Homo sapiens: one gene and its partner. The protein of the gene in region 2 interacts with the protein of the main gene of each other region in a pairwise test. Each region holds a gene or a part of one and is shown on either strand. Other genes may lie near its edges. The genes, in order: LIMD1 and STAC.

Region 1 (2,870 bases), 9.2 Mb from region 2:
CTGGCTTCCTGCCGAGTTTTCAAATTGGGTGTCCCCTCACTTTCACTCCGTCACAGGCTTGCCGTGGACCAAGTCTCATGGGCAACACAGGGCCCAGAACCACCTGTCCTTGAGAGCTAGGATTAGTTGGAGGGACATGTATGTGACCAAGTGGTGGCAGTCCCTGAGGCTGCCTTACACACCTGGACGTATCCACATAGCCAGAGATTCTCCTAGAAGTGTCACACATCTAGGGCTGTCGCCTACCTGGGAACTTCTAACCAGATCTCTCTGACCATAACCCACAGAGTATGACCTACTCTGTTTTTTTACACCTAGAGTACAAGGTCTCAATCATGTTTGTGTAGGAAGCATTTCTGTTTTCAATCCAGGGAAAATTGCAAACCCCCACTTTCAGGGATTCCTGAAGAAAAGGCACCCAATAACTTAGGAATATTCTTTCATTTCCTCTCAAAAAACGTTCGTTGGAGTCTGTGGTAGGCTGACTAATGCTCCTCCTGTTACCGGTGGAGGGTGTCCAGGTTCTTGGCGTCTTGATAAAGAAATGGACAAAACGCACAAAGCAAGTAAAGAATGAAGCAACAAAAGAGATTTATTGAAAAACGAAAGTACGCTCCACAGGGTGGGAGCAGCCCAAGCAGCTCAAGAACCCGGTTACAGAATTTTCTGGGATTTAAATACCCTCTAGAGGTTTCCCATTGGTTACTTGGTGTACACCCTATGTAAATGAAGCAGAGGTCCATGATCAGTTTGATTGGTTGTGGGAGGGGACCAATCAGAGGCTGAAGCAAAGTTACAAAGTTACACCACCCTATACAAACATCTGACTGGTTGTGTAAAACGCCCAATCAGAGGCTGAAGTTACAAAGTTATACTCCTAGGCAAATGAAGACTTGGCCTAAGACCAGTCTGATTGGTTGTGGGAGGGGATCAATTAGCGATACTTTCAATTTTTCACCTGCCATGCAGAAAAGGGGCTGGGGGTGGGGAGGTTGCAAAGGGAGTAGCCTCTGGTCCTTTTGTTACTTGAGCGTGGAAAGTTGGGGTTTTCCTTTTGACTTAGTTCTAGGAAGTCAGCCTGAATTGGCCTTAGGAAGCCAATTCCATGCCTCCAGACCCTATCTCCTGCTTCCCTCCCCTTCAGAGATGTCCCTGTCCTCCTCACCAGAACCTGTGAATATCTTATTCTGCAAGGTAAAAGAGGCTTTGCAGATGTTATTAAGAATCACAAAATGGGAGATTATTCTAGATTATCTGGATGGGCGTAATCCCAAGTGTCCTTACAAGGAGGCAGGGAGGGTCAGAGAGGAGGTGTGACAATAGAAGCAGCCAGAATGATGCAGCCACAAGCCAAGGAAAATGGGCAGCCTCTAGAAGCGGAAAAGGGGCAAGGAATGGGCAGCACCCTATAGCACCTCTGGAAGCAATTCGCTTCTGCCGACAACCTTTGGCTCGTGTCCAGGATGACAGAATGATATATTTGTGTTGTTTTAAGCCACTGAGGTTGTGGTAATTTGTTAAGAGTGGCCATAGGAAACCAATACAGACTTCAACAGAGCAGCAGTGAGCTTCTCCTCACAGCCTCCTGTGGCTTTTTGACTATGTAGCTTTGATGAAGAAGTATACTGATGGACAATTTACTGCCTCCCATCAACCAGAGTAGTAGAGTGGTCAAGACAGCACCCTCTGGATGAGATGGCCTGGGATGGAGTACTTACTGTTTATTTCACCCTTTTGTGTCTCAGTTGTCTTGTCTATCAAATGAGGGATGATAAAGAACATACAGTCCTTGGAATAACATCTGCTATGTGATGAGCACACGGGAAATGCCAGCTATTACAGCTGCTACTGCTTCATCACAGCACTTAGAACCAGACCAGATACCCCACTGCCCAGTCCCACATGGCCCAATGCCCAAGGCTGACTCTTAGGACTATGCCATCTCCTCCCAATCCCTGGTGCCAGGATGCCTTGCTGGTAGCTGGAAAGTGGCCATGGCGGGAATATTTACATCATAGGTATCAGCAAACACTCCATATCAAGGCTTTTTAATTTTTTGCCCCAGAGGGCTGGTTTGCCAGCACACCACAACTCCAGACCGCCTTTTACCCTGATTGCATCTTCACTCCTTATACCATCAAGGTCTTAAGCAAATAGCAGCCCATGTTGGCAAAATCAGACTAGCCATTCTCTCATCACTTAAAAAGAAAAAAAAAACTTTTATTCTGGTGTAAGGTGCTATGACTATGAGTATCCTCACTCCCAGCTTTCCCGTGTCCTTGGCACGTCAGACCTGGTAGCCACAAGGACTACACTGGAGTCTAGAACAAACTCTTTCCCCACCCCAAGGATTCTAACCACACACTTGGCCCCAACACTCTACAAGTCCTGTCTTCCTGCATGTGGCTGTCTCAAACCTGAAGGATCACTCGCCTTGAGGATTCTTTGGTCATAACCTCAGAAGAGAAAAAACAGTAACATTCACAAGAGAGACAAAGTGACCTTACAAGTCACTGCATCAGGACCTTACAAGTCTCAATCTTAAAGGTCCAGTAAAAGAAACTGCTGATTCTTGGGATATGATTCTCCAAGGCCTCTCACATTTTTATACATCTGGTAAGAATAGACACCAATTGCCAGGTTCCAGACTTATATTTTCAAGGATGTTTATCTAGTGAACAGTCTTGGATGACAGAGATAGTGTCTGTCTCTGGAGCAAAAGTCAGGCAGGCTTACTGCCCATTATCAAATACCAGGGTCCCCTAAGCATGGGGGTTCCTCTTGTAATGCAGCCCACTGCGTGTGCAGGTCTCACCTGGCCCTCTTCTTGGGGCCTGGGGCTCAGGGAACCAGTGTAAATGCTGATAATC
Region 2 (3,825 bases):
TGTGACAGAGATCAACCAAAGAGAGTAGAATAAGAAGACCAAGCAAAAGCAGACCCCTGGGAACACTCCAACTTAAGGAGTTACAGGAGGACACATCAGAGAAGGAGATGGGCTGAGCAGAACAGCGAAGTTACCCTCGAGTAAGTCAGGGGTTTCTAACACTGCCCAAGCATGAGTGGCTCTGGGAAATGCCCTTCTCAGGTAACATATTTGCCTTGTTAATGGATTACTTCCTTGTTTAACTTCACAATAATTCAGGTTCAAAGAAAACACTGTTAAGGCTAGATGCGTAATGAAAATGAAACAGCTGGGTGCAGTGGCATGCACCTGTAATCCCAGCTACTCAGTACACTCAGACAGGAGGATCATTTGACTCCAGGAGTTTGAGGCCAGCCTGGGCAATAGAGCAAGACCCCATCTCTCAAAAAATATTTTTAAATGAATTAAAATATAGAACAGTAACAATTTCCATTCATTGAGTGTCAATTATGTCAGGCCCTGTGCTAAACACTTTATGTATATTATTGTTACCCAACCTAAGCAGCCTTTATTTACATATAAATCCTACCCATGTATGCTTTGTATATTTTCATCACATTTAGCACCATTTTTATCCTTCTTTCAGTAAAAGAATTAGCATTATCTTGTGGATGCCAAATAACAATGATCTCCTCCCTAAGGAGGTCATCAGGTATCTTAAAATGACACACATTATCCCCTCACTGCTTTGAGGCAATGTCTACCGAAGTGAAACATTTTTCATCTTTACTATGAAATGCTTCAGTACTCATATGACACAGTCATTATAATATCCTTAACACGTGTATGTTACGTTCTCAATCTTAATAAAATGGGATAAGACATATAAAAGTGTATTTTTTTAAAAATGGTAAACAATGCCACCATTGTCAAATTTCTTCGCTATTGGTTTGGTCTTCAGAAATAAGTTGTGAATTCTAAGGGTAAAAGCTATGACTTCCTCTTCTTTTGTGTCCCCTACAGTGCTAGTAAACTGTAGGCCCTTCATTCATGTCTGCTAACTGAGTAGAAGAAAGAACTATCTGATGTCAATTTTATGTACAGTAAGGAAAAAGAGTAAAAATTATTTTTAGTTCTTTCCTCTTAGAAATCAGTGGATGCATGAAGAACAGGGCTTTCAGTGAGTTTAAAGATGGCTTTGAGGATAGCCACATGGCATCAGGCAGAGGACCTATAATCCTACCTACTTGCCTACCCGACCTATTCACCTACCTACAATCTTGTGGCTTAAACTGCACCCAATAGAGGACCTATAAACCCACCTACTTGCCTACCCGACCTACATTCCTATTCACCTACCTACAATCTTGTGGCTTAACCTGCACCCAATGAGGAAGCTGCTTCAACTCAGTCTCTGAGAACCCCTCCCAGGCATGTGCCCTGCCCCTCTTCCCACAATCCACCTAGTCACTTGATGTTGAGAGGACTCAGTGGGGCAGACCATTTGAAGGCTCATCTGTGTCTTGCCTAGAAGCTTCCAGTCCAGCAGGGGCTGCAACAATGGAAATGGAAACTAGGAGCTGGCTATCCTAAGTGGCCATGTGAACTGGAAGGTCCTTGCCTCTTTGCTGGAGGAATGGTGGCTTTCAGCATGGGCTGCAGAGTTGTATGGCATCTTGGAGCATTTATAGAAATTCTGATTGAAACAACCAGAGACAAGATGATGATAACAGGTCACAGAGATGCATGGAACACTCAGTTTAAGTCAGATAGAACTTAGGAGAGGTGCTTGGAAGAGTGAGTGTCCCACAGAGTCACAGTTCAAGTAACTTTGAGAGTGCAGTTTTTGTGTGCAATCAAGAGGTGTGCCCTCTCTTAGAGAGAAAAGACAAAAGATGTGAGAAATAGCTGTGTCTTTGAACTGGAATGTAGCTAAACGGAAAACTGGAAATAGCCAGGATTTCCAAGTTCCTGACCATTGTTTGAGCCAAACATTTCTGTATGTTGACTCATATGTTATCTAATGTTGGTGGGAGGGTAAAGGAGAGGGGGTCCATGGGAAGGGTCAAGGAGCATGAGGCCAAGGGGATGGTCTTTGGACAGGAAAGTAAAATAATCCCTTGGTGTTGACAACAGGAAGTTAATCCTTAGTGGCTCAAAGCACTTTGGGTTTCTCTTTGGCAGGTGCCTGACTCCCTGCAGACCTGCCCTCATGAGGCAGTCAGGTGGAATACCCCATACTGCAGTGCCTGAGGCCCGCTCTGCCCAAGACCACCACAGACAAACCGAGGAAGGAAGAGGATAATTACAGAGGTTCTGTGAGGTGAGTCAGAGCCACTGCCGGAGCTGCCCTTCTTTGTCCTCTGGGCCAGGGAGGTGCCGAAGCGGAGGGTCTCGTAGACAGGGTCCACCTTATTGCCACAGGCTGCAACAGAAGAGAAAGTTCATCTGAGGAAGCTCATCTGAGAGGACCCAGCCAACTGCCTACCACATCTCCTGGGTGAACAGCGCCTGAGAAGCAGGCTCTGTGCAGAGGAACTTAGCCTCTGGGTAGACAGGGCTTTCATGGCCAAGTGTTCCTCACAGATGCACCCCCACCCAGCATGCTCCCATTTGCAGGTCCTGCCATGTACCAGCTAGTACTCTGCTCCCGAATTCTTCCTGATTGAATTTCCTCTTTCGTTATTCCTCTCTGATTTCCAGGTTCTTGCAGGGATCAGCTTTATCTCCTCTACTGGGAGGCTGTGCTCACCAAGGTACAAAGACTTGAGACACAAAGTTTGCAGTAGGAGGCAACTGTTTTAGAAATAACTTGTCACTACTGGGCTTCATTAATTTCTAATTAAAAGCTTTCTAACTTATAAATTTCTAGTTTAAAACTTGCCCCCCCTAAAAAAAGCAAAAATAGATGTCGAGATTTTCAGAGAGAGAAAAAAAATAATAGAAGTAAACTGAAAGATATTGTTAGAGAAGAATCCAAGCCAAAGCTATCAATAAATAGAGGGCATCTTTTGATCTGCATTAGAGAATAATATATTCACTGAGCTCCTACTAAGCATGGGTGAATAACCTATATTTATTTTTTATAGCAATTATGAAAAGCAGCAATTGCTGTTCTCATTTTGTGGGGGTTGACAGGTCAAGTAACTTGTTCAAAGACACACAGTTGTCAATAGGGAGCTGGGCTTAGAGCCTGGTCTGGGGGAAGCCATTCTCCGTGTTCTTTCCACTCCACCATGCTGCTGATGGTGGAATTACTAATCAGTAGCCTTTGGGATTTAGGTGTTTTCTGAGCTTCATCAGGGAGAGGATGAAAATTCCTGGAGAATTTGGTCCACTTTATGTTTCCCTTCCAGCAAAACACACAGTCATACCCCAAATAGCCACCAAACAAACACACAGAGATACCCCACGGGTTTTGCAGCCATGGGAGGACAGTAGCCATTAATGTTAACTTTGCTGCTTCAAACTCAACTCAACCCATCAATGTCCCAACTCACCAATGGGCATAACTTCTTTAATGCAGCCAAACTGTTCATGAATGAGCAAGGGGGAGCTGTAGTAACGCCGAAACCCCTTTGGCTGGAGAGAGAATGAGGAAGGCAAGGGGTTAATGTCACTGGAGATGGAGAAAACCATACAAGAGCTCCCTAAATAAAACCAATTGGTTTCTCCAGGAGCACCCTCCTGTCTCCCATTAACATGCCGACTTATCCTATAATTCCACAATTTAATCCCAGCAGGGACACAGAGGCAGGGAGGAATAGTGGCAACTAGCAAGTTACACTCTATCCAGAAAACAAGGTCCTGGCCCTGGCCTCCCCAGTCGTGTCTGTCCTCCTCCTG

What was found.
Region 1: the proteins of STAC (region 2) and LIMD1 interact in a two-hybrid assay, tested with the Homo sapiens proteins (one study listed by BioGRID and IntAct).

What each region holds. Positions count from the first base shown.
Region 1 is NC_000003.12:45,681,513-45,684,382, reverse strand, and holds part of LIMD1 (LIM domain-containing protein 1), read right to left. Parts: 3' UTR 1-2,870. UniProt on the Homo sapiens protein: Adapter or scaffold protein which participates in the assembly of numerous protein complexes and is involved in several cellular processes such as cell fate determination, cytoskeletal organization, repression of gene transcription, cell-cell adhesion, cell differentiation, proliferation and migration.
Region 2 is NC_000003.12:36,484,713-36,488,537, reverse strand, and holds part of STAC (SH3 and cysteine-rich domain-containing protein), read right to left. Parts: intron 3,562-3,825; coding exon 3,480-3,561; intron 2,776-3,479; exon of another isoform or gene 2,613-2,775; intron 2,405-2,612; coding exon 2,289-2,404; intron 1-2,288. UniProt on the Homo sapiens protein: Promotes expression of the ion channel CACNA1H at the cell membrane, and thereby contributes to the regulation of channel activity.